7 separate regions of the Homo sapiens genome follow, and regions 2, 3, 4, 5, 6 and 7 are each reported to be linked to region 1. Evidence: microRNA targets listed by miRTarBase, many of them from high-throughput screens and not tested one by one. Region 1 holds a microRNA gene; each other region holds the end of a gene's coding sequence. Distances are between the middles of the regions.

The links. The annotated mature microRNA hsa-miR-670-3p reads UUUCCUCAUAUUCAUUCAGGA and lies in region 1 at 1,213-1,233, shown strand. An mRNA with a match to its seed (bases 2 to 7 or 8) in the 3' UTR can be bound and repressed. Matches are read on the target gene's strand: a 7mer-m8 pairs with bases 2 to 8, a 7mer-A1 pairs with bases 2 to 7 and ends in A, and an 8mer does both.
Region 2: the mRNA of ATP2B3 is a reported target of hsa-miR-670-3p. Seed matches in the 3' UTR shown: 7mer-m8 at 2,994-3,000, 7mer-A1 at 2,972-2,978 and 7mer-m8 at 1,566-1,572.
Region 3: the mRNA of FAM167B is a reported target of hsa-miR-670-3p. Seed matches in the 3' UTR shown: 7mer-A1 at 834-840.
Region 4: the mRNA of SCOC is a reported target of hsa-miR-670-3p. Seed matches in the 3' UTR shown: 8mer at 2,665-2,672.
Region 5: the mRNA of TMEM106B is a reported target of hsa-miR-670-3p. Seed matches in the 3' UTR shown: 7mer-A1 at 2,443-2,449 and 7mer-A1 at 388-394.
Region 6: miRTarBase lists FAM13B as a target of hsa-miR-670-3p. Seed matches in the 3' UTR shown: 7mer-A1 at 3,006-3,012.
Region 7: miRTarBase lists SLC43A1 as a target of hsa-miR-670-3p. Seed matches in the 3' UTR shown: 7mer-A1 at 748-754 and 7mer-A1 at 1,125-1,131.

What each region holds. Positions count from the first base shown.
Region 1 is chr11:43,558,502-43,562,580 of GRCh38, forward strand. MIR670 (microRNA 670) reads left to right here and starts at 1,155; the gene lies at 1,155-1,252. It also overlaps a transcript of HSD17B12 not described here.
Region 2 is chrX:153,579,429-153,583,507 of GRCh38, reverse strand. ATP2B3 (ATPase plasma membrane Ca2+ transporting 3) reads right to left here. Exons shown (of 22, transcript NM_001001344.3): 22 at 579-3,530. The coding sequence ends at 3,210. Among named protein-coding and RNA genes, the nearest start is that of CCNQ, 18 kb to the left of the region's middle.
Region 3 is chr1:32,247,835-32,251,913 of GRCh38, forward strand. FAM167B (family with sequence similarity 167 member B) reads left to right here. Exons shown (of 2, transcript NM_032648.3): 2 at 537-1,022. The coding sequence ends at 767. LCK (LCK proto-oncogene, Src family tyrosine kinase) reads left to right here and starts at 3,431. Exons shown (of 13, transcript NM_005356.5): 1 at 3,431-3,537. RefSeq lists enhancers at 646-805, 2,034-2,243, 2,434-2,643, 2,694-2,783.
Region 4 is chr4:140,380,471-140,384,549 of GRCh38, reverse strand. SCOC (short coiled-coil protein) reads right to left here. Exons shown (of 4, transcript NM_001153484.2): 4 at 1-3,588. The coding sequence ends at 3,446. Among named protein-coding and RNA genes, the nearest start is that of SCOC, 8.9 kb to the right of the region's middle.
Region 5 is chr7:12,231,364-12,235,442 of GRCh38, reverse strand. It overlaps TMEM106B (transmembrane protein 106B), which reads right to left. Exons shown (of 8, transcript NM_001134232.2): 8 at 1-3,606. The coding sequence ends at 3,468. Among named protein-coding and RNA genes, the nearest start is that of TMEM106B, 22 kb to the right of the region's middle.
Region 6 is chr5:137,936,835-137,940,834 of GRCh38, forward strand. FAM13B (family with sequence similarity 13 member B) reads right to left here. Exons shown (of 24, transcript NM_001385994.1): 24 at 1,126-3,514. The coding sequence ends at 3,391. All of the region lies in intron 14 of PKD2L2 (polycystin 2 like 2, transient receptor potential cation channel), which reads left to right. Among named protein-coding and RNA genes, the nearest start is that of PKD2L2, 49 kb to the left of the region's middle.
Region 7 is chr11:57,481,605-57,485,683 of GRCh38, reverse strand. It overlaps SLC43A1 (solute carrier family 43 member 1), which reads left to right. Exons shown (of 15, transcript NM_003627.6): 15 at 442-1,150. The coding sequence ends at 588. Among named protein-coding and RNA genes, the nearest start is that of RTN4RL2, 23 kb to the right of the region's middle. RefSeq lists a silencer at 2,340-2,669.

The sequences.
Region 1 (4,079 bases):
TCTAGGAAAGCTGAATCACCTCCACTCTGAAGAGCAGCCACTTCTGGGAGGTGGAACACAGGGGGAGGAGGGAATACCCCCTCCTCCATGGTCCTTAAATATCCGTGTGGGGGCACTACTTGAATGTCTGGTTCAGATGAGCCTGGAAATATGACGAGGGTTCTTTGGACTGGGCTGGTAGTTGAGAAGACCATCTGAGCGGGGATGTAATTCTGAAGGAGTAAGGTAGTGGCTTTTTCTTTTGCGCTGGGGGTGCGGGGGCGGAGGGGTGCAGCTGGCTGGGTCATCAAATTAACATGAGAAGGGAATCGTTTTCAGCAGGGAAGTAGGAGATTTGGGGAGGGTGCTTGGAAGATAGAATCAGCATGCTATTGCCACCCCCCACCCCAAATAACCAAAAGGCAAGGAGTACAGACATAGAAATGGGAAGTGAAATGTTGGTATAGACTGTGATTAAGCCTGCTGTTGGTATGAAGTGCTGTCTCACTAAATAAAGCAGAGTGGATGGTGGCTGCATCCCTGGATCTGCCGGTGTGAAGTAAAACCAGGTCAGCTGGCCTGACACCCACTGTCCATATCACTGAAGGTCCTGCTCCAAGAAGGGGGATGGAGAGTCTTCCACAGCCCGGAAAGCATCAGGTTTCTTTGTGTTGCACTTCTCAGAAGGAAATTGTTTCTGTTTATTGCTTAAGTCAACAAGTATTTGTCTCCCTTTGATATAAATGCTGTGGGGGAAGTGGTTACAAGAAAAAAAAATCTGGTCCTGGAATTATAGCCATCTGCTCTCCACAGTCCTCCAAGACTGTCAGTATCTCTCTTTACTCTGAGCTGTGGTCTTCTAGGGACCAAGTTCCAGAAGAATAGCACCTAAAAAGTATTTCATGTCCATCAGCCTTCCCCGGAGATCCATGGAAAGACCACCTCTCTCAGGTTCTACCAGGTGCCCAAGCACTTGTCACATGCAGACATGTATGTGCAGTGTACATGCACATATATGTGCAAAAACCACAACAGTATGCATGTGGGTACCCAGGGTTCTCTCCACATGAGAACCCACGAGAGCCCACGTCAGCTCATGAGCCACATACACAAGGAAACAGACCTTCTTCCTCTCTGTCAAGTCCGAAGATGCCAGCTGAGACGTTCTTCATCCAGTTTAGGGGTGGACCTGATGTCCCTGAGTGTATGTGGTGAACCTGAATTTGCCTTGGGTTTCCTCATATTCATTCAGGAGTGTCAGTTGCCCCTTCACGCGACGTTGGAGAGCATTACAGCAAGCAGGTGTCTACTCATTTATGGCAAGAATGAAGTCCGACTTTTATCTTCATCACCTTGGATGAGCCCTGGTGCTTGCCCTGTTTCTCAAAAGAAACCTAAGGGCAGGGGCAGAACTGGTTATAGAATTCATGGAACCTGGCACAAAATGAACACGTAGGGCCCCTTGTTCAAAAAGCAGGAAGAAAGTGCCTAAATATAATGCCTTTGTCTTTCTTCCACAATCTCTCTCTAGAATCGTCATGGTGGTTTTTTATTTGCTGTTTTTCATGTGGTGCTAAATAAAAATAAAAATTTTAAATTTTTAGCATGAATTTTACCGTTCATCTTTATATTGTGTGATGCCAGTTGTAAATGTAAACACAAGAGCGTTTAACTCATTTGTAGAATCACTGAAATTACACAATTCACATTTCATATGTCGCATATGCATAGGTATTTCATTCTTACCAGAACAATGGAGATGCTGACAAAATGAACTCCAGTGTTTTTATTTCACTTCTTGATACAAGCGCTTTGTACCAGCACTCTCCACCTTCAGCTTGCTGTTGAGGAGAAATAGCTATGGATTGCTCTATCTTCACCTTTCCTTCTGTGTCAACATTTTCAGCATAGGTGTTTGGCAAATACAGGGAAGGAACATAAGTAAGAAATGCTACTTTAGGGTCCCTTAGGCATTAGTGTTTCTTAGAACTCTATTGCCTTCCTTCTGCATTTGAAGCATCTGGTTCAAACAGAAAGCATGACCTCTGGGCACTGTCTGTGTCCCCCGTCTGTGTAGTCATAGGCTTACTTTCCATTCTACTTGCCCCGAGTCTCACTGAGCTCCCACTGGAATTCTGTACGCATGGGCTACTGCCAACATTGTGGGACAGGAACGATGGATGGGCACACACATTCTCTATTATCCCATAGACTTCACTTACAAAACACGGGTTCAAAGACAAAATTTTTAAGAATTTCAAGACAATAACAGTAGAATCTTAAACCAACCATGGAGCTCTTCTGAGCCAAGGGCCCTGCAACTACACAAGTTGCACGCTCCTGAAGTCAATCCAGGTGGGAGGAAGTAAGAAGTAACCTAGACTTCAGGCTGAGAACCCTATTACTCATCTTCCTTCGTCAAGCGAATAATTGAATCCGCAGCAAAAAAAAACTTGAACGGCCTCCATTTTTGACCCATTGGGACTTTCTTCTCCTCTAAGCAAGTCCCACTCTGTGAAAATCCACCACTTCCTGGTGACGCTATCACAGCTTTGAGGGGAGAATTCATCTGCTGATCTCTTCACTGAAGCCGTGGCTTAGAGCCCAAGCCTTGCAGATGAAGCATGGGTTCCAATCCCCACCCACCACTTTCAAGCTTGGTCCCATCCAGGAGATACCCTGACTGATCTGTACTTAGGTTTCACCACCTGAAAGTAATAAAATATATTTGGTTTGATTCATGAATAATTGTGCTAATTATTTAGTGCTGCTTCTTGTTTGTCTCACAACTGCTCTGAGGTCTGCCCAGGGGTCTCCTGGCCCAGGATGACAAGTTCTCAGAAATTACTTTAGCAATTAATTCAATTGATGTTGCTGTGGAAGAAGCAGGGCTTGATGTTTAAAGGGTCTAGAGGAAGACGGGCCTACATTCCTGATGGACCCAATAAAAAGAGTATTTTTCCTGCCTTCATCAACTGCCTTTTGCTCCTCACCTACTAGGGAGCAAAGCTAGAGGGCATCTTAGAGATGTGAGGTGGACTAGTTTGTAAATAAAATAGCATTAAAAATATATCCAACCTAGAGAATGAAGACTATGGACCCTCCATCGTTGGTTGAGGGACTTTGAGAGTTTTTGAGAGTTGTGTTTTTCAAGCTTAATATAGCTTTCCTTTCTAGCCTGTTCCTTCAAGTGACACAAACACCCTTTTTTTTTGAGAAATATTTAGCTTGGTCTAGGCTACTGACAGTACCTAGAAAGAAAAAGAAAAAGAATTATTCTTGCTTATTATTTTATAAAACCTTTACTAGACTTGGAGACTGCTGCAGCGACAGTCCAGTTAGTGGACTGGAAGACCAATCAATGAATAATGATTGACTGTTTACAAATGAGCCTAGCACGGTGCTTGACCCATGGTGGGTGTTTAATAAATGTTAGCTGACTCAGAGTATGTCTCATTATTGTGGCACTATGTTATAGTGAAAGAGCTATGAATTTGGCATCAAACCACATAGGTTCAAGCAACCATGTGGATGTATGCTCTTGGGCAAATTATTTCGCTTCTTCGTAAACTGCTTATCATACCTAAACAATGGGAGTATTCACATTATAATAGCTACCCCACACAGTTATTTTGAGAATGAAATCAGAAGTGAGTTGGCTCATTTTAAAGCACTCTAGATAAGTAAGTGATACATGTGTTTCTGTAATATGTGTGTGCACAAAGGCAGATATTAAAAATTTTTTTAAATCCTGCCTTTTTCTCTTTCCCATCTCACTCAGCAATAGGAGTAGGCATAGGTCTCTGATAGGCTGGATGGCATCCTGAGTACAGTGTAACTGTGGATAGTTTAGGCTTTGCAGCCAAGAAGGCGTGCATTCAAATCTTTCTTAGCTCTTATATGTGGTTGGTTATGTGACTTTTGATAAGTTATTTAAACTCTCTAAGCCTCAGTTTCTTGACATTTAAAATGGGGACCTACCTCAAAAAGTTATTGTGACGATTCATTGAGTTGATATTTGCAAGGCTTGGCTCAGTGCCTGGCACATACCAAATGTCTATCACTTTTATTTTTTATTATTATTTTAGCTATTATACCTC
Region 2 (4,079 bases), not on the chromosome of region 1:
ATAGAGACAGAAAGTAGAAGATTGGGTGCCAGGGGCTGGGGGGTGGGGAGTTGGGGTTGAACGGGGCCAGAGCTTCAGTTTGGGAAGATGAACAAGTTCTGCGGCTGGACGGTGGTGATGGCTGCACAGCACCGTGAATGTGCTTCTGCCCCTGGGCCGCACACTTACAAATGGTGAACGTGGTACATTTTATGTGATCTGTGTTCTACCACAATAAAAGAAGTGGGGAGCGTGCATGTGTGTCGGGGAGCCTCAAATTCCTGGGCCCAAGGGATCCTCCCGCCTCGGCTTCCCAAAGCGCTGGGATTACAGGACTGAGCCACCGCGCCGTGTACTAGAGGCCCTTTCAAGTCAAGACAGCCGCGGCTCCTGCAGCAGCTGGAGCCCCTCCCACTGGGGGCCTAACATCCCAGCATAAGTTCCTCTTCTGCATACACATCCGGCCAGGCTGCTGCACACCCAGGGGAAAGCCCCTCCTGCCCGGGGCTTCTCCAGCTCTGTTAAAGAGGCATGAAGGCACCTTTGTTTTGTTCTGCACAATAATTCACCAAATAATAAATCACACACGTTACCCAGACCAGGATGTAAGGAGCCTTTCATTTTTTTTTATACACAGAAATTTTGGTCTATTCTTTAAGTTAGGAAATTCAACTACAGACTTTAAATTATTACGTATCTGTGATCTTTCTCATTAAGTTTTTTTGTTCATCTTTATAACAGGCAGATAAAAATGTAAAACATATTTATGAACTGAACACAGTTGACCAAGCCATTCCAAGTAATATAATGCTTTATAAAGAGGGGCTTCCCAATGAGACAGGGCCCCCAGCCTTGAAGACTGCAAAAACAAGAGCAAAAGATTCCAGGTCATGGTACCCCGTTTCTGAACTCCACAGCACAGCACAAAGGTGACCTAGGGACTAAACAATAGACATTTACATTAGGCAACTTTATACAGCAGCAGTGAGGGTTTGCTTTTAATATCTATTGGCCATTGGTCCTATCGGTGTGTCTACGACAGAGAGTGAGAAGAAGCCGGTGAGTGCAGCAGCACGCAGCTCCAATTTCAACGTCTCAAATTTGATTTCTCATTGAAGAACACAAAGACCCTCAACAAATGGAGTTGCCCTTTTTCTTATTATCGTTTAAACAAGGACATCAGGGAACAGTTTACAAATGGGTGACATTCTCAATGTGCCCTTTAGAAAAAAGGGATGGCTTTGAGTTATCTGCAGCTGGCATTTTAAAGTGGGATTTTCTTTTCTAACCGAAATTCTTTTGCCCAAGATTTGACTGCTTCTGCTCAGGGGTGACATGGCATTCATGGGAATAGTGGGGATGACGCCTGCTCCTGTTTGGTTTTGTGTGGATGCCGGTGGAGGTGAGACAAGCCTTCTGAGGGTGCCAGTGCACGTTGGTGGTTTCCATTCCGATCCTCTGTCCCTCAGGTCCCAACTGTCTCCCAGTGGCTGAGCCCAAGGCCCAAACACCTCCCTGCAAAACGTGACACCTGCAAGTGTGGAAGGCAAGGGTCCCCCATGGCATCACTGTGTGGACCTAGGGGCTTCCTCAGGAGGGTGGCAAAAGTCGGGCCCCTCTTTATCCCCTTTGCTCATTTGGGGGAAACTGAGGCTTGGCCACCAGGTGCCCACACTGCCAGGATACGCTCCCCTCAGGACCTGGTGCTGAGCCACAAATCCATGACTTCATGGCTTAAGCTTGGCCGCTGGACACAAAGACTAGGGTGGGAAGAGTGCTTTGGTGGTGGCACCTCTGATGTCACAGCAGACATCAAGGTGGTCTACCGAGGACTCCTCGGCATTTGCCAAAGCAAACAGTGGGAGTCCATCCAGGTGCTGAGGGGACAGGGTCTGAACTGTGGCTGCGTCCCTGCCGTCATTCTCCCACCACCAGCTCCTCCGGGCTTCTGACGCTCCCTCTCCCTCCATTGGCTTCTTTTGAACTCTTGGCCCTGCCCCCGCCCCCTCGGACCTGTGCTCAGCTGAGGCTGCTCTCTGGACTCTGGGCAGGACCCACAACTCCAAGAGTGCTTCATGCTCTTGAAGGTGGGGGCATGGCCAGGATGAAGGATGTGGAATTGGAGTAGGAACCAAAGAAAGCTGAAAACGAAACTCCCCTTTCACTAACTGGAGGACTCCTTCTCATCAATATTTTGGTTTTTTCCTTTTAGATTAAAATTTCCCTTGAAAGGGTTTTCTCCTCTCTGGCAGGGGTCTCAGTGCAAATGCTCCAATTATACCTGCTCCAGACCTGGAGCGCCCCCTCTCGGCCTTCTCCTTGGGAATCTCAGTAGGGCCGGGCAGAGGGCAGGAGCGAAAGGTGGGGGCGGGGTGATGAGGGACAAAAATGGGTTGACCAGAAAGATATTCTTGCAGTCTAGTTCCCTGAAAAAAAAAAAAAAACAACTACAACCTTGCTACATTCAATAATGAAATTTCCAAATGAAAATGCCTGATAAGAGGAATGCAAATATCATGCCAGTAAATAGTTCCTTATTGAAATACGCATCTGGCCATATATACGTGTGTGTGTACAGATCCACACACATACACATATGTGCATGCACGCACACACATGCGCACTGCGGATGTGCCTAGTTTTTGCAGAGGGCGGGTTGCTTTGTGGCTGCAGGGCCGCTTGCAGGCGGCTCCCTCAGGTGGCACCCTTCACAGGCCTGCAGAGCACTCAACTTTTTTTTTTTTTTTGCATGAAGATGCTGATCTGATTGCCCCTGCATGGGTGCAACAAAAGCTCCCCATAAACCCAAACCAGCCCCCTGCCCACCACACAGCTCAAATGGCAAACACACGGTAAAACTGTAGTTTGTTAAAAAAGAAGCATCAATAGAAAAAAAGGTGGGGAACTCAGCTCTTCGCACTTTCTACTTCTTCTCCTTCCTCCTTTGGACGAAGAACCTTCTCCTCCCCCTTTTTGTCCTCCTCTTCCTCCTTTTCCTCCTCCCTGTCCTCGTCTTCCTCAGTCCGGATGAGGAGCCTGTGGCAGGCTGCACCCTTGTTGAATGGATTTGGGTCCTTGCAAATGCCCTGCCAGAAAGGTCTTCAGCCACCTTAGTTGTTCCCTCGTTTTGCAGGTGTGCAGGTCCCCATATGTGTGTGTGCGTGCATGTGTGCGTGTGACTTCGTGTGAGTCCGAGTGTGCGTGTGCGCATGTGCTGAGACAAGTTCTTGTTAGAGGGACGTCTCCACGCTGTGGAGCGGGCTCCCGGGACTGGAGGAAAACACTGAAGAGGTAGCTGACTTGGTGACATGCGTGGTCAGGTAGATGCCGCTGTCTATGGCGTTGTTGTTCTGGTTGGGGGACGGGGGCGGGGGGGCCCGGAGGCGCTCCTCGTTCTCGTCCACGTCCGTGTCGTCAATGAGCGGGATGTTGTGGGTGTAGTCATTGATCAGAAACTCGGGCGTGGCCATGAAGTTGTGAATGGAGGTCTTGGATTCTGGTTTCTCCAGGCCTTCATAGAGCGAGCTACGGAACGCTTTCACCACCCGGATCTGGAGTGGGAGGTGGAGGGACAGGGCGCGAGGTGGGAGCAGGGAGGGAGGAAAGGAAGGGAAAGGAAAGGAAACGTGGAAGGAAGGTAGGAAGGAAGGAAGGAGACAGTCAGTGGCCGGCTGGTGCTGGTAAATTCCACCCACGTCAATGGCTGGGGGTCATGGCATGAGAAATGTCCACCCATTTGTTGGAGGGCTGCTACGGAATGGGATGGCTCTGCCTGCCTTTGGAAAGAGTTTTCAGGTGTGGGCCTTGGTCTCGTCAACCGATCCGCATGCAGGAAAAGATGGCAGTGTCTTTCTCTAGGCTGAGCTGGGCAGGTATTCTGGAACTTGAGAGTGCTGCACTAGGCTCTTGGCTGTGACCCCGCAGTTCCCTGTCCTGGGGAGACGAGTGGCTTTGGTGACCTCTGGGGTCTCTGCCCAATCTGAATTCCAATTTGGTAGAAAAGAAAGATGATTTGAAAAGGAGAGAATGCTGGTGAGTGGGATGTCTTCTCGATCTTACCAGAAAGTCCGAAGTACCTGCTGGTATGAGCAAGTTCCCAG
Region 3 (4,079 bases), not on the chromosome of region 1:
TTGTCCAGTGTTGTATTCAGGGAGGCTTGCTGAAGAAGGATTCCATCCAATCTACTGACCTTGTGCTCCTGTTGCTTAGGGGACAGAGCACTGGTGTTGGGGGGTGTGGGGCACCATTATAAATAGGGAAATACACAGCCTCCCCTACTCTGGGACTTTCTATGGCCTAAAGATACAGCGAAGTGCAAAAGGAGGCACTGGCCATGCTGCAGGCAGATTCTGAAGAGGTGAAGTTTCAGTAGGTGGCTCCCAACTCAACATGTGCAAATATAAAGATACCCAGGCTCCAACACAGAGATTCTGCTTAGTTGATTTGGGATGGGGCCCAGGCAGTTGGATTTGCTTAATAATGACTCCTTAGCTGGGTTTGAGAACCACCAGGTGAAGCCAGATTGGGAGATAGGGAGAGATCAAGCTGAGGTGAGAGGGGGCTGGGGAGGACACAGTCAGTGCAAAGGCCCAGCGTTGCCAGGAAGGGAGAAACGGCGCGCGGCCGAGGGCCTGTCCAGTAGGCTCACGCCCCCTCTCGGCCGCAGCGGGAGATGCAGGCGCAGGACAGGCAGCTGGCAGGGCAGCTGCTGCGGCTGCGGGCCCAGCTGCACCGACTGAAGATGGACCAAGCCTGTCACCTGCACCAGGAGCTGCTGGATGAGGCCGAGCTGGAGCTGGAGCTGGAGCCCGGGGCCGGCCTAGCCCTGGCCCCGCTGCTGCGGCACCTGGGCCTCACGCGCATGAACATCAGCGCCCGGCGCTTCACCCTCTGCTGAGGAACACCTGTGCCCCCCGACTCCCCGCCCCCTCTCCCAATGCCGCTTCCCCTGCCTGCCTGGGAAGAGGAAAGGGAGGGGTGCCCCAGAGGCACCAGCTCCTGGCGGGGGAGGAGGAACATTCAGGTTTCTGAGAGCTGAATTCCAAGAGTGCAAAACCCCAGCATCCTGTTTCCTCTGCTGACCCAGCTGGGAGGGGGAGGAGGAGGAGCTCACACCCTCAAACTCCTCAATAAACGCTTTCTCTGGTTCCCATCAAGGTCTCTTGCAGTCGTTTATTCAGGCCCAAGGCCGCTATCTGAATGTCGCCTGTCACTGGGACCACCCTAGTTCACTGCAGGCCCATGGGAGGTGACTTAGGTAAATTGGGCTCCTGAAGAATGCAGAATCTGAGAGACATGGGTTCAAAGCCAGCTACCCCGTTTATTTCTTTTTGTTGTTGTTATTTCTTCTGCTTCTTTTTTTTTTTTTTTTTTTGAGGCAGAGTCTCACTCTGTCACCCAGGCTGGAATGCAGTAGCACAATCTCAGCTCACTGCAACCTCCGCCTCCGGGGATCAAGCGATTCTCCTGCCTCAGCCTCCCAAGTAGCTGGGATTACAGGCGGCCACCACCTCGCCTGGCTAATTTCCTTTCTTTTCTTTTCTTTTTTTTTCTTTTTTTTGAGATGGAATTTCACTCTTTCGCCCAGGCTGGAGTAGTGGCGCGATCTTGGCTCACTGCAACCTCCACCTTCTGATTTCAAGCGATTCTCCTGCCTCAGCCTCCCAAGTAGCTGGGATTACAGGTGGCCACCACCTCGCCTAGCTAATTTCCTTTCTTTTCTTTTCTTTTTTTTTTCTTTTTTTTGAGATGGAATTTCACTCTTTCGCCCAGGCTGGAGTAGTGGCGCGATCTTGGCTCACTGCAACCTCCACCTTCCGATTTCAAGCGATTCTCCTGCCTCAGCCTCCCGAGTAGCTGGGATTATAGGCACCCGCCACCATGCCCGGCTAATTTTTGTATTTTTAATAGAGACAGGGTTTCAGCATGTTGGCCAGGCTGGTCTCAAACTCCTGACCTCAAGTGATCCACCTGCCTGGGGTTTCCAAAGTGCTAGGATTACAGGCCTGAGCCACCGTTTATTTCTATTCGACCCTGAGGAGCTCCCTTAACCCCTGAGTCTGTTTCCTCACCTCCACAATGGAGATGCTGATTCTCACTCCACAGGCAGCAGATGTGCCTTACGGGAGATAGTGCACAGTGAGCGCTCAGTGAATATGAACTATTACTCACTCCCAGCGCGGCAGTCTTTCTACTCTGTGCTGAGACAGGGAGATGGACCGTGAAGTGTTCAGGCTTACATTGCAAGGGAGTCTGGGCCCTGCACCAGGCTTGGAGCTCCAACTCTAGGCTCTGTGTCACTGTGAAGGTTTTTCACTTTGTCTCTCTCAGCCTTTGTTTCTGTGTTACCCTCTTTGTCTGACTTTCCAACTCAGGCTTCCTCTTCCCCCCACCTATTTCCTGCCCCCACTTCTCTCTGCAGCTGAGGTGCACACAGCATCGCTTCCACCTCACAAGCCCCAACAATGCTCTGTGGGTTCCCCTCCCCCTACCAGCTCACTCAGGCAGTGACGCATGTGCACTTTCCTCCTGGTGGGGTCAAGGCCGAGTTCTTGGACCTGATGAGGCCACCTGGAGTTCCTCATATCACTGGTGACCTGGCCCTCAGCTAATGATGGGTGCCCCCTCAGCCTGGCCCCAGGGGAAATGGAAATTCTTTGCCTGCCTGCTGCTCGTGACAATCTTCTTGCCTCCTGCTTATAACAGAAAGTCCTGACAGTCTGTGGCCTGCACCTGGGGGCCTGAGCGGCCCTGTTTGCTCTGTCTTCCACCTGTTGCAGGAGATAGTGCCAAGCCCTCCACCTCTGCCAGGGGCTGTGGCCTTGCCTCTACCTGAATTCGAACTGTTGCCCTACTCTCCAACCATGATTAATGGGTGTTGTCCTGGCCTCTGACTACAGCAGGGGCCGTTACTATGCCCTCTTGAAGACATGAGGTTGTCCTGTCTGCCTCCTGAAACAGGCTGTTTTCCAGCATTCTGTCTGTAAGAGGGATGGTAGCCTGCCATTCACCTACCCTTGACTATAATAAAGCTACTGTTCCATGCCCTGAGATGACATGGGAATTGTTCTCTCGGCCTGACCTGACTGTAACATGCATGGTCTGCTCACCAGCTATTTAACAGGGATATTGTCCTCTCCTCTGACTCTGAACGATGCTACCTTTGCTGCCAGACAGAAACAAAAGGGTCTCTCAGCTGCAACGGTGGTGCTGAGGTGCTGTTTGCCTCTCACCATAAGCTGAGTGTGTGTCCGCTTGCCCCCTGCTCACTGGGCCCAAAGGCTGCCCTTGAATCTCTTGCCCAGATGCACCCTGGAGGGCAGAAGGGAGGGTCTATCAGACATCCTCCCCTCAACTTTAAACCTCCCAGTGTCACCCTGGGACAGTAGGGGAAGATGGACCTGGTCTGGAGATGTAGGGGACCCCCAGGGGCTGAGAGGCAGGGGTCTATGGTGGCAGGAAGCTTGGCGTGCTAGAGGGTTGTGGTTGGGCTGCTGGGGCCCGGTTGGCTGCGGAGCCCTCCGGAGGAGGCAGGAAGTCAGGGTGGGACGTGGGCGCGGGGAGACAGGTGGTGGCTACGACGGCGAAGGGAGCTGAGACTGTCCAGGCAGCCAGGTTAGGCCAGGAGGACCATGTGAATGGGGCCAGAGGGCTCCCGGGCTGGGCAGGTAAGGAGCGCTGGTATTGGGGGCGCAGGCGCCGGGGTGAGAGGCCTGATAGCAGACGGCTGCAGCTGTGCGGGCCCAGGCTCCCTAGGGATGCAGCAGCCCTTTGTGGCTGGGGAGAGAAGATCCTCGCTCAAGGTCAGGTGGGAGGCAGGCAGTGTAGCTGGGTCGCCTCTTTCCTGCGAAGCTGGTGTCGCTTGCCTCTGTCGTGCTGTCCACCAGTGGCCCCACCTGACTGGGAGCGTGTTTCCTGGACACCAGGCACATGGACAGTCAGGTGTTAAAAAGGCTTCCAGAAACCACCAAGCCCAGTCCCTCAGGCCATGAGGATGAGGCTCCTGAGGCCCAGAGAGAACAAGGCACTCACTGCCCACGGTTTCTCAGCAAGGCAGTGGCAGGGCTGAGAGTGATGGCTGAGGCTGTGGCCACCCCGCCTGGAGCAGGGTGATGGACAGGCTGGACTCAGAGGACCCAGGAATCCTTCTGGTTTCTGGGGCAGACCCCAGTGACAAGAATCTCCTGAGAAAGAGAGAGAGAGAGAGAGA
Region 4 (4,079 bases), not on the chromosome of region 1:
AAACTACTAACTGGAGACATCAAGAGTAGGGTGATTCTTGCCAAAGACAGGCCAGGTTGACGATCATCAGTTATTGAGGATGGGATTATCTCTAAACTCATTTAGCAGGATTTTTGCTAAAACTGGACTAGTCAAAAACAGGGCTCAGAGGTGCCTGTCTAAAATTTGGTCGAGTCTTTTCCAGAAGCTGGACACAGTCCCTGTGCACACTGTGTACCACCTATATTTCTAATGAAGAAATTATCCTGAAGTATTGCATAGCAAAAACTAAGTATATAGCATTAGCTTACCATTAACATGACAAGCAGTGGGGATATATTTTGACACCTACTAATCTGATAGCTCTAGCTGGAAAAAGCCAGAATGTTAAGTGAATTGGCTATTCCTTGCTTTCAGCAAGGTATCAAAAAAATTGACATTTTCAAGCAAAGATAGAAGGGAATAGACAAAGTTTTGATACAAGGAACCTCATGAAATTAAGCCAATTGTTTCTGAAGTCTGAATAGCAGCAAAGGTTCAAAATTATTTTTGAGGTGGGGGAGATTGGGGGGAAGCCCATGAAGACTTCTCTACCAATCGTTAAGCCAAAGGAACCCAGCTTTGCAGTGATGATCTGCATGTAACATTCCCAGTGTAATCTTATTTTTAGTTGATCTCAAGATAGCCTCCATTAAAGAAAGGCAAAAATAATACATACTTTGAGAATTTGGTCAAAAGCTTGGTTGTGGTTCCTCGGCATATGCAATCAGAAGCACACTGATAAAAAGGCTTGAGTTTTTGAGAGAATCGTATTCCACAGAAACATGAGCTTGGCCTTAAAATGATGGGCACCAAATTCACACCAGCAGGAAGTGGACTGTCTTCACAATTCCCATGGAGTGAACACCCAATCTCTACTTCTGAGGTAGCCATGGAAGAAAATGGATAAGGAGTAACTTTCCAGAGGGGAAACCATGGAGTTCAATGAACAAGGGAGTCCCCTGCCAGAGATCAGAATCATAGTTGAATCAAGGAACTTCTCCACTGCTAGGGACAAAATCTTCATACATCTCCCAGGAGCATTCCACAATTTTTACGTTTCCCTTTATTCCATTTTCCAAATTGAGACTTTTTATTTGGCCATCCTGTCCCAACTACATTATAAATGGGCAGCAGCAAGGGTGAGAGCAAATAATTTGCCTATCAGTTTAGAGATTGTCAGACTATTAGAAGCCACATGTAAAGGGATGGACCTTTAATAGAGATCCTAGATTGTGAGCTGAATCACTAGCTGGATGAAGAGGGATTACTTTCTGTGTAAGGGAAGATACTTGGTAGCACAAGAAGAGCTGTGGCTGAGGCTGCTAGCAGCCACCAAAATCTTGTATTTATAGCTGGAAGATGGCTTCCCAGCCAGGGACTACATTTCTCAGCTCCTCTTGTATCTAGATGTAACTAAGTCTCCACACCACTGGAATATGAGAAGATATATGAGCCATTTCCAGGCACAGCCCATAACACCTTGCATATGTACACTTCCATGTTCTTTTTCTGCAAATTAGAAGAATAACTAGAGTGACTTGAAAGCCATGATTTAAAATGGCAGCACCATCCTCAGCCAAAGTCCCTGAATAACTGTTTGAACAAGGGCTGCTAGCCTGCAATGCTGACCTTGGAACCACTGGTTGGGAGAGAAACTTCTATATTTATATTCTTTATCACTGGGTCTCTTGCTAAAGTAGCTTAGCCTACCCTAAAAAATACAACTTCCTTTTTCCCTGGAGATACTGGATCCTTTGAGTGCTTTGCTTTTGTTTTCCAAATTAATGTATAATAGCCTATGATATTTATATTGATAACCAGTTATAGTTGTATTAATAAAAATATTATTCCCCTAAATAATCAGTAACTGGGTACTTAAATAAGATACACTATTCTGTGGCATTGAATAACCCTGGATACACCACTATACCTAAATACCCCATTTACTTAGGCAACTATATCAAAACACACACAACCTCTGAAATAGCTTTTTATTAAACGGCAAAGCAGAACTGCAACACAATTTAAATGTCTGTAAATTAGGTCACAAAAGGGATGCAAAATGTTTGCAGTTTGACTATTATATATTCACACAGCTAAAGTCATTCATCAACTCTTACACCAATACATAAGATTATTCCATGATTAAAAGCCCAAATCTAATAACCTTAAGCTACATTAGTGGATCTCTTTTCATATTATAAGATTTTAGCAATACTTCCAATATTGATTTCCTTACCAAATGGAATCTAGAAGCTAAATTTTTAAAAATTGTTAAAGGATGACTAAAACTCTTCAAACCCAGTAGCAGGGTTTACAGAAAATTCTAGAACAAGTGAGATAAAATACTGAGCAAGATAATAAGTATACATGTATAACTTTCCCATTTTATTCACTATTCTAATACTAATACACCATTACGGAATTTTGCAGAAGTTGACCCACTGGGTACAAATCAACTTAGAGACCAAACTCTTTGTAACTGTTCTCATCCAGATGTGGCTAACATAAGGGTAGTCAAACTTAATCCACTTTCATATATATTTCCCAAAAGATCTACTCTGTGCCAGAGAAAACACAAATCTGGAGTGAAAATATTTGGTTACTACTGTTTACCGAGTACTTTTCCACCCTATTTCCATTTTTCCTCAAAATTTTCTATTTTAACATACACATGACCAGAAATTATATATTTTCAGATAATACAAAATGAGTTATTTTGGGCAAAAAGAAGTTTTTAACAACAAATATTCCCAAGTTAATTCAGTTTCAAAGAAAAACCTTCATTTTTAGCCTCCATCTATTTCCAATTAATTAAAGAGACACTAGCATTCCTATCTTAACACTAAATACACAAATGACAAGCCCTAGCTGAGACAGTATCTTATTTTGGTTAAGTTTCAACAATTAAAATACAGGTTACTCTCAGAGATGATTAACTATTAAAATTACTTTTACAAATGTGACACCAATTTTTTTCCTTAGCGGAAGGGAAATAGGAAGGAAGAGGCAAATGGAGAAGAGGCACAAGATGGTGGACAGGGTACATAAAGCTGTGCATTTAGTACATGATTTTGGTCACTTTTTCACAACACGGTGGTTATTTTCTTGTATATCTTACTAATCCTATAATAAAAGACAGTGCTAAACCTACAAATTCAATAAAACATTCATCTTTAAGTTTCATAAATATATGCAATTCTAATCATAAAGTCTCTACAATACATTTGCACGTTTTCATAGACTAACATAATACACAAACTTATGGAAGTCTCCTGTTATTGTGTTATTTTTGTCTACATCTGACATTATCTTCATAAATATTCAATGAAGCCACAAAGGTACTGTAACTTTTGGAATCTATCCAAGTTTTAAAGAAAAAATGATCAGCAGCAATTCCATAAAACAGAAGGGTGTCAATCCCTTACTTTCTTTTGCTTTTTGTGTCAGTTGTTTGAAAAACACTAGAAGCTGACATGAGATTTTCTATATATTGTCCAAGAACTTGGTTTTCTGATTTTAGCTTCAGATTTTCTTCCTTAACTGCATCTACTCTTGCAGAGAGATCTATATAAAAAATAAAAATGCCCATTATCAATAAAACAATGACAATGATTCCATATTACAAAATTCTTAGGATTCATTCTTAAAAGAAATAATACAATCCTTAAATTTTAAGAATTCGGATTTTAGAGACAGCAAGGTAAACAAACTGAGTACAAATTAGTAGACAAATTCCTAAAAAGATATTTCACATTAGACTAAATGCTATTCTTCATAAATAGCATTAATGTTGAGTAATTTTTTAAAAAGACTTTGTTTTTAAAATGTGAATTTTGGTTCATGTCTTATCAACATAAAACTATAACATCTTTACTAGAAATGTTTAAGATATATATCAGGTTAACACAACTGAATTCATATACTGAATACAGGCAGTCAGTTTCCAAGCAACTTATCATCTTGTATTGTAACATTATCAAGACATTGAACACATGCAGTTCCTGATGATCACATAAGAGGTTAATTCCGGCTGGGCACGGTGGCTCGCACCTGTA
Region 5 (4,079 bases), not on the chromosome of region 1:
TTAGAGAAAATAATTGCTTCACTGGCCTAACAAGGCACAGAAAAACTGTACACAAATAAAATATAGCCATTTAAATGTTCCATACTTAAGATGGTTATTCAGTAATTTCAAACAATTTATGTGGTATCTAATATTTTCATACTATTCTTATTTCAAATCTCAAATAAATTAATCTCTATTATTTATAAATAATTTCCTTAGACAATGGATCAGTCTTATCTTTATTGGAATGATGAAGGGGTACTAAATTTTAACAGAAAATTAAGCTAAAGATTATGTTCCAAAGCATTTTATAAGTGTTCATTCTCCATTTAAAATATTTTAGAAAACAATGCTACCAAAATCTTAGTCCAGCAGTATTAGTTTGTCACTACTAACTATTTGAACTTTCCTCTCATTTTTAATCATACCAATCTGAGTCAGCAGGGATTTCCAATATATATTTTAAATGATAGAACACAGATATGGGAGACAGAGATACTTGATCTTGCTCCAGTTGTACTACTTAGTAAGTACGTGATCTTCAGCCAGTCCCTCAACTTCTTCATGCCTTTCCTTCCTCTTCTAAAAGATAAGGAGCCTATCACTCTCCTTTGTTGGACTCATGGAACTGTGGGAAATCACGTAAGAAAAACATAGGAAAGAACTCTAAAAAGGGCCAATGTGCTATCAACATACAGAGGTTTGTTATAGTACTGGATTTTATTAGAATGACCAGTCTACTAGGGTGTAACTTAAAGTTATTCCAGGAAGTATCAGAAAAATTTCTGTAACATATCTTTACCATGTCCTCTGGATAAGGTCTGAGAGCAGTTTAGAAAAGCGTATTAATACCTATCCTATTCCCATGGAAAAAAGCACACTGGACATTGACCTAAGAAAAGCTAAAAGCCTCATTCACTCTTTCTAGATGTTTTATGGCTATACTTCTGCTTCACCTGAATGTGTGTTTGTAGTTTTATTAATTTACAGCCTGTTTTGTTCCAGGCTTATTCTGACAGTTACTTAACTCTCTCTGAAAGTAGTCACATACCATCTTTATTTCTCTTCTATCTTTTTACTTGTTTCAAATTCTTGTTTTTTTCTGACTCAAACTCCACTAAAAGTAGATATAATAAAAAAAATTAATTCAAAAGATGAAGAAAAAAGATTCAAAATTAAGTGACTAAAAGCAAATGCTTCTACTTTCCATCCTTTTCAGGAGATACTATCATGCACTCTAATAGTATATAAGAAGCACAGATCATCAGAAAAATCTGTTTAATTTACACGATGTAATTTTCCAAGGTTAAAAGACACAAGCAAGAAAACAAGGATTGATTTTTGTATGAGCGTATCTAAAAGATAATTTTGAAGAAATGAATGGTGATAATAAAGTAAATGGGACATGAGGACAGGATGGGAACATAATAGAAAGGATATGATAAAATAACTTTTTTTTTATTTTACACAGTCACTAAATGTGTAAAATTTACACATTTTAGTAAATGTGTAGTTCACTAGCTAAATGTGAAAGCAGACAGGTGACTGGTCACATATGGAGAAGCAGATTTGGAAGCCCTACTACAGATACAGGTGATTTTTGAAGTCACATAATTAAAAATTTTGAGACAAAAGGGGACCTATATCATATATAGACATAGATCATGTCAAATGAGAAAATGAGAATGATATAAAAAATACAAACAGAACCTGTATCAGAGAAGTATGCAGTAGTAGTCAGGAAACGTAGCAGAAGAAAAATGAAAATGATTTTTTTTTTTTTAAATACTAGAAAGGCCATAATGAACTTAAAGGACTGATTTGGGTTTAATAGTAAGGATGGCTTGAGTTAGCAATGAATTAAGGGAAGACTAGTGTTAAAACAAAAAAAAACCAAAAACCACATTCAACGAATTGAAGATACTCAAGAAAACTTGCAGAAAATAATATGAAAATTAAGGGGAAACCTGAGTGTGTTTAAAGGCAGAATTAAATAAAGCTTATGTTTTATGGTTGAGAGAGTCAGACTAATAAACAGGCTGTTTCAGACCTAAGTTAGGCACTTAGGGGTGGGGAAAGGGAAACCTGATTTCTGTCATGAGAAAACAGAACGAAATTAATCTCAACCCAGCTACATTTTTTGGTATCATAACCACTCCTACACTTAGTACATATTTTAAATGTCCCTAGAACTTGGTAAGTGAAAAGACAAAAAAAAAAAAAAATGAAAAATGATACTGAAAATATAAAACAGCAAAGTTGAATAAGTCAATAATCTATATTTGAAAACAATTTTAAATAAAACCAAAAGTAGAAAACTATAAAAAAGTAACTACTAGAGGCATCATATTCCAAGTGATGTGCAAAGTGATTAAATTTCTAAATAGGTTTTATTTTGGCCACCATCATTTAATGACATTCAATTAAGGATTTCTTGAACAATTTCTACCAAAAAAATAATTTCCTCCTCTAAAACATTGATAAAATTGATAACTGGGTACCTAACAGTTGCAAAACATGTCTACACCATTCTTTAGTATGAAAAGCAACATAAAAAAATGGAGCATCAAAATATTTTATTTCAAATTTATTTTATGCCAGATCCAAGCTGTAACTGGAACCTATTCCCAGTCTATGGGTTTCTGAATTTCATTTTCCTATTTATTGTATTTTTATGAGAAACTTGTTGTAATGAGTCTGTACCACTTTATTTGACATTTACTAAAGCTGTATAAAAGCCATGCACAGTTTATTTACAGTATTGTACATTAAATGATAATGTTTGAAGATCACACAAAGATTTCACAAAACTATAACTAATACAGAAAGATGTGTGAAAACATTAGGGGCTTTCAAAATTTTAGGTATGGAATTTTGCAAAGATTATTTTGGCTTATAAGTGTTAGGCAATCACTAACCTGAAATAAGTGACAAAAACATGCAGATGATTACCATTTCAACAAATGAAAAGCTATAAATGTCTAGCTAAAAGCTAAAATATTGTGTAGCTGAAATACTACCATATAACAATGGGAATTTATAAAACAGGAAAAAAGGTTATTCTTTAAAAGTCTTCCATGAGTAATAGACTTTCAGTAATTTTCTATAAAAACATTCAGAAATTAAGTTTCTCAAATTATGTTTATCACCAAAATTATGTTTTCAGTAGTGACTGGAGCTATGACTTTTAAATAATTATTTATTGTACTATAGGGGAAGTATCAGCTTTTCCCTGTAGGGGATAGGCTGGAGAAGGAAATCAACCAGTAAATTTAGATTCAAGTAAAAGATCCTAGTACAAATATATCATTAACACAGAGTGGAGAGTTACAAGAACTGCAGGTCCACATACTTTTAACTGTACTCTTAGAAGTGTAAACTTTAGGTTTGTTCAATTTAAGGTCTCCTATTAGGAAATACCTCTTCATTGAGAGTATAGGAAATATCAATAGATATTTCTTCTTTAAATCCATCTCTTCCAGTTTTTACTGTTGTGGCTGAAGTACATTTAAATATTCAGACTGCCCCAACTGATAAGTTGTGTTTCTTCCACAGTCGACATACTGATACCTCTCCTGGGATATCTGTTCAGAGTGGCCAAAGTATGTTGTTGTCACAGTAACTCTAAAAATAATGTAAGTGAGGAGAGACATTTAATAGTTATATTAGAAGTTTTTCCATAGTGAGACTACTTTAACACATAAAAATTATCTCCCAGAAGAGAATATTTGATTAATGATAACTTAATATTGTGCACACAATCCTCTTAAGGAGTATTTCCCCAACAGACAACAAAAATGGATAGCTGAGTGAGCCCTGTAGACATAATTACACATAATAAGTGTAATATTTTAAAACAATTATCTTCTGTTAAAAATATAAAAGTTCATTATATGCTTAAAAGTGACCATGGTTCTCTTATCATAGAAAAAAAGGTTAATCAAATGTCAGCTAATGGTCAAAACACCAAACCTATAATCAACAATGTTTTATTGGCTTAGATAACACCCAATTTACAAACCAATAATATTCTTATTACTGTTAATGACTATTTGTCAAGGGAGTAAGGAATTGGATGTGGGGCTCAGTTCCCTGTA
Region 6 (4,000 bases), not on the chromosome of region 1:
ATCATCAAACTATCCTTAGGGTCAGAATGAAGTGCCTCTGACAGGGACTCACTATACAATCCATGCATATTATGACAAGCCTCCAGTATACACACACTGGTACAAAGGATTTTATAATGAGGTTTATTATCAAATTCTAGAAAAGTGAAAGTACAAGAAAATGCTTCTAGTTCAGGCGGCAGGTCTCCAGTAGTTCAGTCAGTAGGTAGAGAAAGACAGTTTTCTCATAGTTACAGAGTAGAAAAACTATTGATGCTATCAAGTGCGTCAGGTACCATGTTCTGAATTCCTTTGGCCACAGATAAATTAATAAAGGCTTAGGATTCTGGGAAACCATTATATAAGACCCAAGTAAAGTAACCTCCCTCCATTCTTTAGAATTTGAAGCCTTCTGGAAAAAGCCAAAGTGTAGAACAAACTCCCCAGCCACCTACAGAAATCTCACTAACATCTTCAAACTGGAAATTTACCTAGACCATTTCTAAGGTGTAATGCATTTAAGGTTTCCCAAAAATAAAATACAGAGCAGGGTAGGCGTATCACTGTCATAAGTTATGTTTGGAAAGTGTAAATGAGGATGCTGTAACAGCCTTATTTGGAGGGTTGGAAAGTTGTGTGTGGCTGGCATTTTGGAAATTGGAGAGAAACTCTTCTAATTTTTCTAGGCTATGTAAGCCCCCCTACGATAGCCATATGTTCTCTTAGCCCAAGCAACATCATTTGACCTCAGCACTCAACTTCCACATTGATGCTCAATAGTTCCTGAATTTTAAAACTCAAATATAAAGACATTTTTAGATTACTACTCACCTTCCTCAGGACAAGCTCTTCTCTTAAGAGACTGTACATCCAGTGTTCTTAATAGGATAATTCATTGTAACAAGAAATGCTAACTGTTCTCTCTGCGGCTTCTCCCTAGATCTGCACAAGGGAATGAACAACATGGCCTTTCCCTGTCTTACCATTTCCCAGAGTTGTAGCCAGCCAAATAGTTTAGTGACCCTGTTGTTCCCTACCATCGCCCCTGGGTGGGATCATTTAAACAAAGCCTAAGCTGAGGGAACACTTGAGGTCTTTTTTTTTTTTTTAAGCCCAGTGGAAAAACAAACATACATTTACAATGACTTAGAACTTTCAAGTTCTTTTATTATAAAAGTCTGTACAATGAAGTGCCAGACACAGCAATGCCATTATACTGGTGGACATATATATCTATATATTATTTGTATATAGATATACAGTTTTTATTTGTACCAAAGTAAAACTATCACCAACTGCCTAATTCTACCAGCTACTGCTCAACTATGACACACAATACTGTCACAGAGCATAAGTGCTGCCATGCCACTTTTACATATTCTACTCACAGCCAAACATTAACATTGAATAACATATTGAAGCAGCTGTTAATTCTAAAATGAAACCAGTCAGACCACTGACTTATAAAAATATGGTACTCATATAGATTTAGCATTATAAAGAAGGAATATATTATTTAAAACATTTAAATAGTGCATATGGACATTTTTGCATGTGGTATATAAAATAAAACATTCATATAAGATACACAGTGCACATAAAATTAGATGTTTGGATACACTCCTATCTGGAGACTGAAGGAAATTATCTGAAATGTACACTGCATGATGGATTCAAATAAAAATGATACATCTTTTGGTATTTTCAATTTCACTTTTCTAGGTATACATTATGAATAACCTAGTTGTATCAAAAGGAAACCACACAAAAAGGGCAGGATTTAGTGCTTTTCTTTATTCCCCAACTACACATTCACTACCAGGTTTTCCCTCACCCCCCACCCCCCAGAAAAAGGCATTGCACACACGGGTGAAATGTGAAGTACTAGAACTGCTATTTATTATCAAACTACTTCATGTGCTTACTATGTAATAGTGCCAGAAGTCTGAGGTTCATGCTTCCCTCACCTTATTAAAGGATGTTGCAAAATTCCATTTTTATATGGAATAAATTGTTAATATTAGCTAGTTAAGAAAACCATGCATGAGTCATTGCATGCAAAACATGGGTATAGTCAAAGTGAGACAGTCATCAATCCAAAAAAGCACCAGAAAAAAAAGTTAACACTTAGATTAAGCCTGACCCAAATCTGCTGTTGTACTGTTAGCACAAATGAAGTCACCATTCTGTAACAATGATTAGCAGAATGATACCGAGACAGTACCTGAAGAAAAGCCATGCAAAGCCAAAGGAAAAAAAGATATGCTAAGAGTATATGACAAGGGGCATACCACTACACATCCTGTAAACAGCTGCTTTAAACAGCATGTTATGATTGACCAAAGGGTGGTCCCTTAAGAGGGCGTTGTTGTCGTTGTTTTGGTATGGATTTTGCTGATTAAAATAGGAGGGGAAAAAAAAAAAGATAACCCCCTGAAGGTACATGTGAAAATGCAGTGGTAGAGCCCTTGTTAAGAACAGATTTACTTTAGGCATAATATTTTGCTGATTTAAGCCCATTGATTGAACACACAAATCTGAGCACCATCAGAGTTCCTACATACTGACATGGCTATTTTCTCACATTATCTGGAGGTGGGTTGGGGAATAGCGCGGATCTGATCCAGACAAATCACACCATTGCCAGCGGATAAACAGTAACTCAGGAAACAGTAACTGAAGTCCCATAGGCAGCATGTGGTATGATTCAGTTCTGTGTGTGATGTGTGGTGTGTGTTTTCAATATACTAAGCGAGGTCACCTTTTGGTCTACCAACTGTTATCTTCATCCGGGAGCTGTGTGACCAGCGAATTGCAAAATTTTACTAACATACTACCTGTGAGAAGATGTCACTTTGGGAATTAAACAGAAAGGTGTTCCATAGTACGACTTGAAATCTCAGTTTGATTTTGGTTTTCTAGGAAAACAGAGAACACAGTTGCGTATGTGCACTTTTATAGGCTTTTCTTTCAAATTTTCAGTCATTCTGTAAGAAAAAGGCAACAGAAGAATTCAGTATGAAGATTTTCCTCCAATTTTCTTCAGTAATGAGAAACAAAAAGTTGGTAATAACAAAAAGCTTGCATTTCCAAAGTTCTTGAAGTTGAAAGGATAAAATTCCAGTCTTTTGCTAAAAGGATGTATCTGTAGTACAAAACAATGAAGTAAACCATATGTTTGCTAAAGGTGGAGAGGACAGTCTGTGGTTAATATGGAACATCACTTACGCTCCCTTGAGAGGGCCTACTTACTCTCCCATCATTTGTTTTGTTTAGTGGCACCACAACCAAGTACAAAATGAGATTCTCTGAGTGCCTGACAAAACGAATTTAAGTACCAGCCAAGTACACACGATGATAGCTTCAAGGAATACAACTGACTTTATGATATGAATTTTCAAGGAACGTATCTTATATGGATTTTGAAGAATCTTGTTTGCTTATAAGAACTTCAAGAAGCCTAAGCTTGGCTTTAATTTTCTTGTACTCTCTGTACTCCTCAAGCACTGGAACACGATCCTCTTTCTGGGCATTCCTAGGGGAGAAAATAAAATTTGTAATGTTCTAGAGATCATTTGGAAAAAAAGATCCAAAAGTTGTCTTAATATGAGACATACTGTTACTAAACATAAGTTCAAATAAAAAGTTGTTCTGTTAAAAAAAAAAAAAAAGGTTATTGAACTAATACCCTCATCCCCAAGGAACACTTCTAAAATTTTTGATGGACTTCTCTACTGATAGATTAAATGATGCTATACTTATAAATAATCAACATAGATAACTGGAGGAAACCCAGTATTTTAACAGGACATCCAGTGCTAGACTCTGCCAGGTCTGTGAGTGTCTATTAAGTGTTGGAGGCTACACTGAGTCATTTAATACATTTAGTTAACTGCGGCTCCAGTGAATTGAGATGTAAAAGTAAACTATCTTATCTGCAACAAGAGTAATTTTCTAACTTTATAGTAATGACCCAATGCAATTCAGTTTAATCGCTAGCTAAAGCATCAAACTATCCTAA
Region 7 (4,079 bases), 14 Mb from region 1:
TTCTGTCCACCAGGCTGTGCATCCCAGTTCCTTGAACTGTGTCTGAGAGCCTCCTCTCGCCACCCTGAACGGGATCCCATTGGTTAACATCTCCAAAGGTCAGAGGGGTGAGCCCAGAAGGCCCCATTTCGGGAGCAGCCTGACCAGCCCAGACTCCTACAGTGCTGTGCCTTCCTCATACCTACCTAGTGAGTGCCATATGGTGTGGGCACCCACCAGGCCCTGCCACTTGTTATACCTGAGAAGTCTCATCTCAGCCACTTTGCAGAATTGCTGAACATTAAGTGAGATACTGGTGGAACAATGACTACACATAATAAGTACTAGCTGTATTTATTCTGGCTCAGGACCTGGAGAAAAATGGCCGCCTTCTCCTCCCTGTGGGAGGCTAAGGGCAGATGACTACCTACTTGACTCTGTTTCTCTCTCCTTGCCCTAAAGGTGAATCTGGGCCTCCTGCTATTCTCACTCCTGGGATTCCTGTTGCCTTCCTACCTCTTCTATTACCGTGCCCGGCTCCAGCAGGAGTACGCCGCCAATGGGATGGGCCCACTGAAGGTGCTTAGCGGCTCTGAGGTGACCGCATAGACTTCTCAGACCAAGGGACCTGGATGACAGGCAATCAAGGCCTGAGCAACCAAAAGGAGTGCCCCATATGGCTTTTCTACCTGTAACATGCACATAGAGCCATGGCCGTAGATTTATAAATACCAAGAGAAGTTCTATTTTTGTAAAGACTGCAAAAAGGAGGAAAAAAAACCTTCAAAAACGCCCCCTAAGTCAACGCTCCATTGACTGAAGACAGTCCCTATCCTAGAGGGGTTGAGCCTTCTTCCTCCTTGGGTTGGAGGAGACCAGGGTGCCTCTTATCTCCTTCTAGCGGTCTGCCTCCTGGTACCTCTTGGGGGGATCGGCAAACAGGCTACCCCTGAGGTCCCATGTGCCATGAGTGTGCACACATGCATGTGTCTGTGTATGTGTGAATGTGAGAGAGACACAGCCCTCCTTTCAGAAGGAAAGGGGCCTGAGGTGCCAGCTGTGTCCTGGGTTAGGGGTTGGGGGTCGGCCCCTTCCAGGGCCAGGAGGGCAGGTTCCCTCTCTGGTGCTGCTGCTTGCAAGTCTTAGAGGAAATAAAAAGGGAAGTGAGAGACTGGCTGGTGTGCGCCTGTCTTTGGCGGTTGGTGGGGGGTGTCTTCCCACACCCCCATCCTTCTTCACCCAGGCTCAGCTGGGCATTAACTAGGACGCTTGGCATGCCAGCCCGTTCGCCTCTGGCTGTCTGGCTCACCTCCCTGTTCCCAACCATGCCCTGCCCTTAGTGCTTGGAGGGAGTCCAGCTCCTGCCCCCTACTTCCCAGGATTTGGGGTACATCCAGGAAGCTGGCTTTTCTCCATACAGAGGATTAGGACAGAATGCTTTAGAAAGAATGCTAAGGTATGACTCAAACTTCCCACCATAGCATCCCTAGGGCCTGCCGAAAGTAACACTTTTTTGGAGTCTCCTATTTTATCTTAAAACTTTATGCAAATTTTGAGCTTCCTTGTTATACTATATTTACATTTACCTTTAACATTAAAGTGAGGCTTTAAAGTAAATAAATAAATAACGTGAAGCTTTAAAATTATCTATATCAAGAGAAGACACCATCAGTGAGGACAAGAGATCCTGCAGAAAGACATACCTTATTTATCCAGCCCTGCACCTGCTTGTGCCTCTGGGACATAAGCCCTGGAGGTTAGAGCAAGTCCCCAAATGAAGGGAAAACTAACATTGGTTTAGGATCTGTCTGTTCTACACAGCTATCTCATTTTATCCAAACTATAGCCTAAGAGGTTGGTGTTGTCATTCTTTCTTGTCGCTGTAGGAAACAAGCCCAGAGAGGTTAAGGCACACACCCAAGGGCACACAGTGTTAGGTGGTGGAGCTCAATTTGGAACCTCGGCAGTCTGTGGAAAGGATAGCTCTGCAGAAAGGAGGTCCCAAGCTTCTTTCCGGTTCTCAGCTGCTCCTGGGGCCAAGAGTGACCTCAGAGGCCTTGGCCATCTCCCCCACCTCCAAAGGTTGGCTCTGTAAGACAGCATTCCAGCTAAGCCATTTTCCCTCCCTTTGTCTTTGTTTCTCTTGAGAAGTTAATAAGAGAGACTGTCCCCTCCGTTTTCAGATAGGAAAACCTGTCCTCAGGGGTCTGGAGACTTGGCAAAGTCACATCGCAGATCCCTGCTGCTCTGAGCCCAGACTCCCGACTTCCAACACTGACTTTTTTTGTTTTTGTAAAGTACAAAATCAGAATTGGCTAGCACCCACCAGCGGGTTCGGCTGGCTTTCAGTAGGCTTGCCGGGGTCTCTGCACTCTGTGTCCGGGATCCTCAATTTGCGAATAGTCTGGGGAGGCTGAGCGCGAGCCAGGAGCGGACCCGGGGGTGGGGGTAAGCGCCACGTGCGCGCCAGGTCCTTGGTGTGCCCGGCAGGCGGCGCTGCGTGGCTGCGGCTGGCTCCGAGGGTGCGGGGGGCGGCGACCCGGGAGGGAAAACCCCTGCCTCTTCCCGGGGCTTGCTCTGCCCGTCCTTTAAACTCGCCCTACACCCTCCCCGACTCCCGTCCTTGCAAGCGTTATCTGCAGCCTCACCGGCCCTCGCAACGGTGGTGGTGGTTGGTGGGGGGTCTCGAAGCTTGCCTCTGGCCAGCCGGACCCCGGTGGGAGATGGAGGCAGAAATTCCGGCCTCCTAGGAGAAGGGCGTCTGCTCACTCCCCCACTCCCCGGGGCTTGGGGAGGGGGCTGGGCAGGGGCGGAAGCGAGCTGGAGCCGTGTTTGTCGCGGCGCTGCGGAGTGGAACAGATGGCTGGGGAGGGGAGAGGGTGCGTGGCGGGGAGGAGGAGGGGTGCGGGGGCCGGAGGATAGGGAACGAGGAATTTCGAAGCCTGGAGTCTCCCAGGAGAAGCCCCCCTCCCCGTCTTTTCCCAGAAAGGGGGGCATATATGCGCCTGCCTTTTTCCCGGAGAGCCCTGGCCTCTGCCCTGTGGCAGACCCTGCCGCGCAATCCTCTGCCCCAGGGCGCGCCCCTCACCCCCAAACCCCCGCCGCGGGACGGGGTGGCGGGGTCAGGACCGCCAGGAGCGGCCCGGGTCGCGAGGGTTAATGGGGCCGCCCTCCCAGGGGCGAGGAGGCGGCGGGAAACGGGCTCGGGGTGGGGAACGAGTTCTGGGATCGCAAATAGCAAAGGAAAAACATGTTAATTGGAGCTTTATGCAGATGAGCTAGGACTGGGGACTGTGGGGTAGAAGGAGGGACAAGGTCGGACCTCGAGGAGCGTTGGTGGGCTCTGGCCGGGGGAGTGATGGACGCCTATCCAGGTATCTGCGTGTTGAGCCTCCCGGGAAGGCCGCTGGTGCCCGGGGATGAGAGGCTTCCTCTCTGACCCACCCCCCAGAAACAAGGTTGGGGGCTCTCCAGGGTCTCCACGTCCTCGGTCTCAGATTGCCACGAAGAGAGGGCGGGGTGCACCCTGCAAGTGTCTGCTTCGGTTTCTGGCTGCTGACCTGTCTCACCTTGGCTGTGGCCCCCTCCTCCCCGGTCTGGCTTGGTCTCCACTCACTTTGCCTCCTCTATCTGTTACTCCCCACACCTGGCATCACCCTTTCCACTCGGTATTGTCTGAAACCTTCCCCAAGTGTGACCCCTTCCCCCTTTGCATTTTCCTTTCTGCCCCCCACAGAACCACTCCACCTTTGAGGCGTGTCTCAAACTTTGGAGTGCTTCATAACCCACCTCCGCTTGCTAAAATGCAGATTCCAGGGCCCCCTTAGCTATCTGATTCAGCAGATCTGAGGGGCTCAGGAATCAGCTTCCTACTTAAATCAGATGCAAAAGGCCCTTATTTTATAGAAACACTGGGCAAGGGATTGGTGGGCTGGAAAGATTGGGTAAGTCTCCTTTGACAGCCCCCACCCCTTCCTCAGTGCTCACCTCTCCACACAGGAGAATTGAAACTTTCACCAAGTGCAGTCCTCTCTGCTTCTGTATGATGATACCAGGCGTGGAGAAGATGGAGGGAAGGAAGGAAGGAAGGAAGGAAGGAA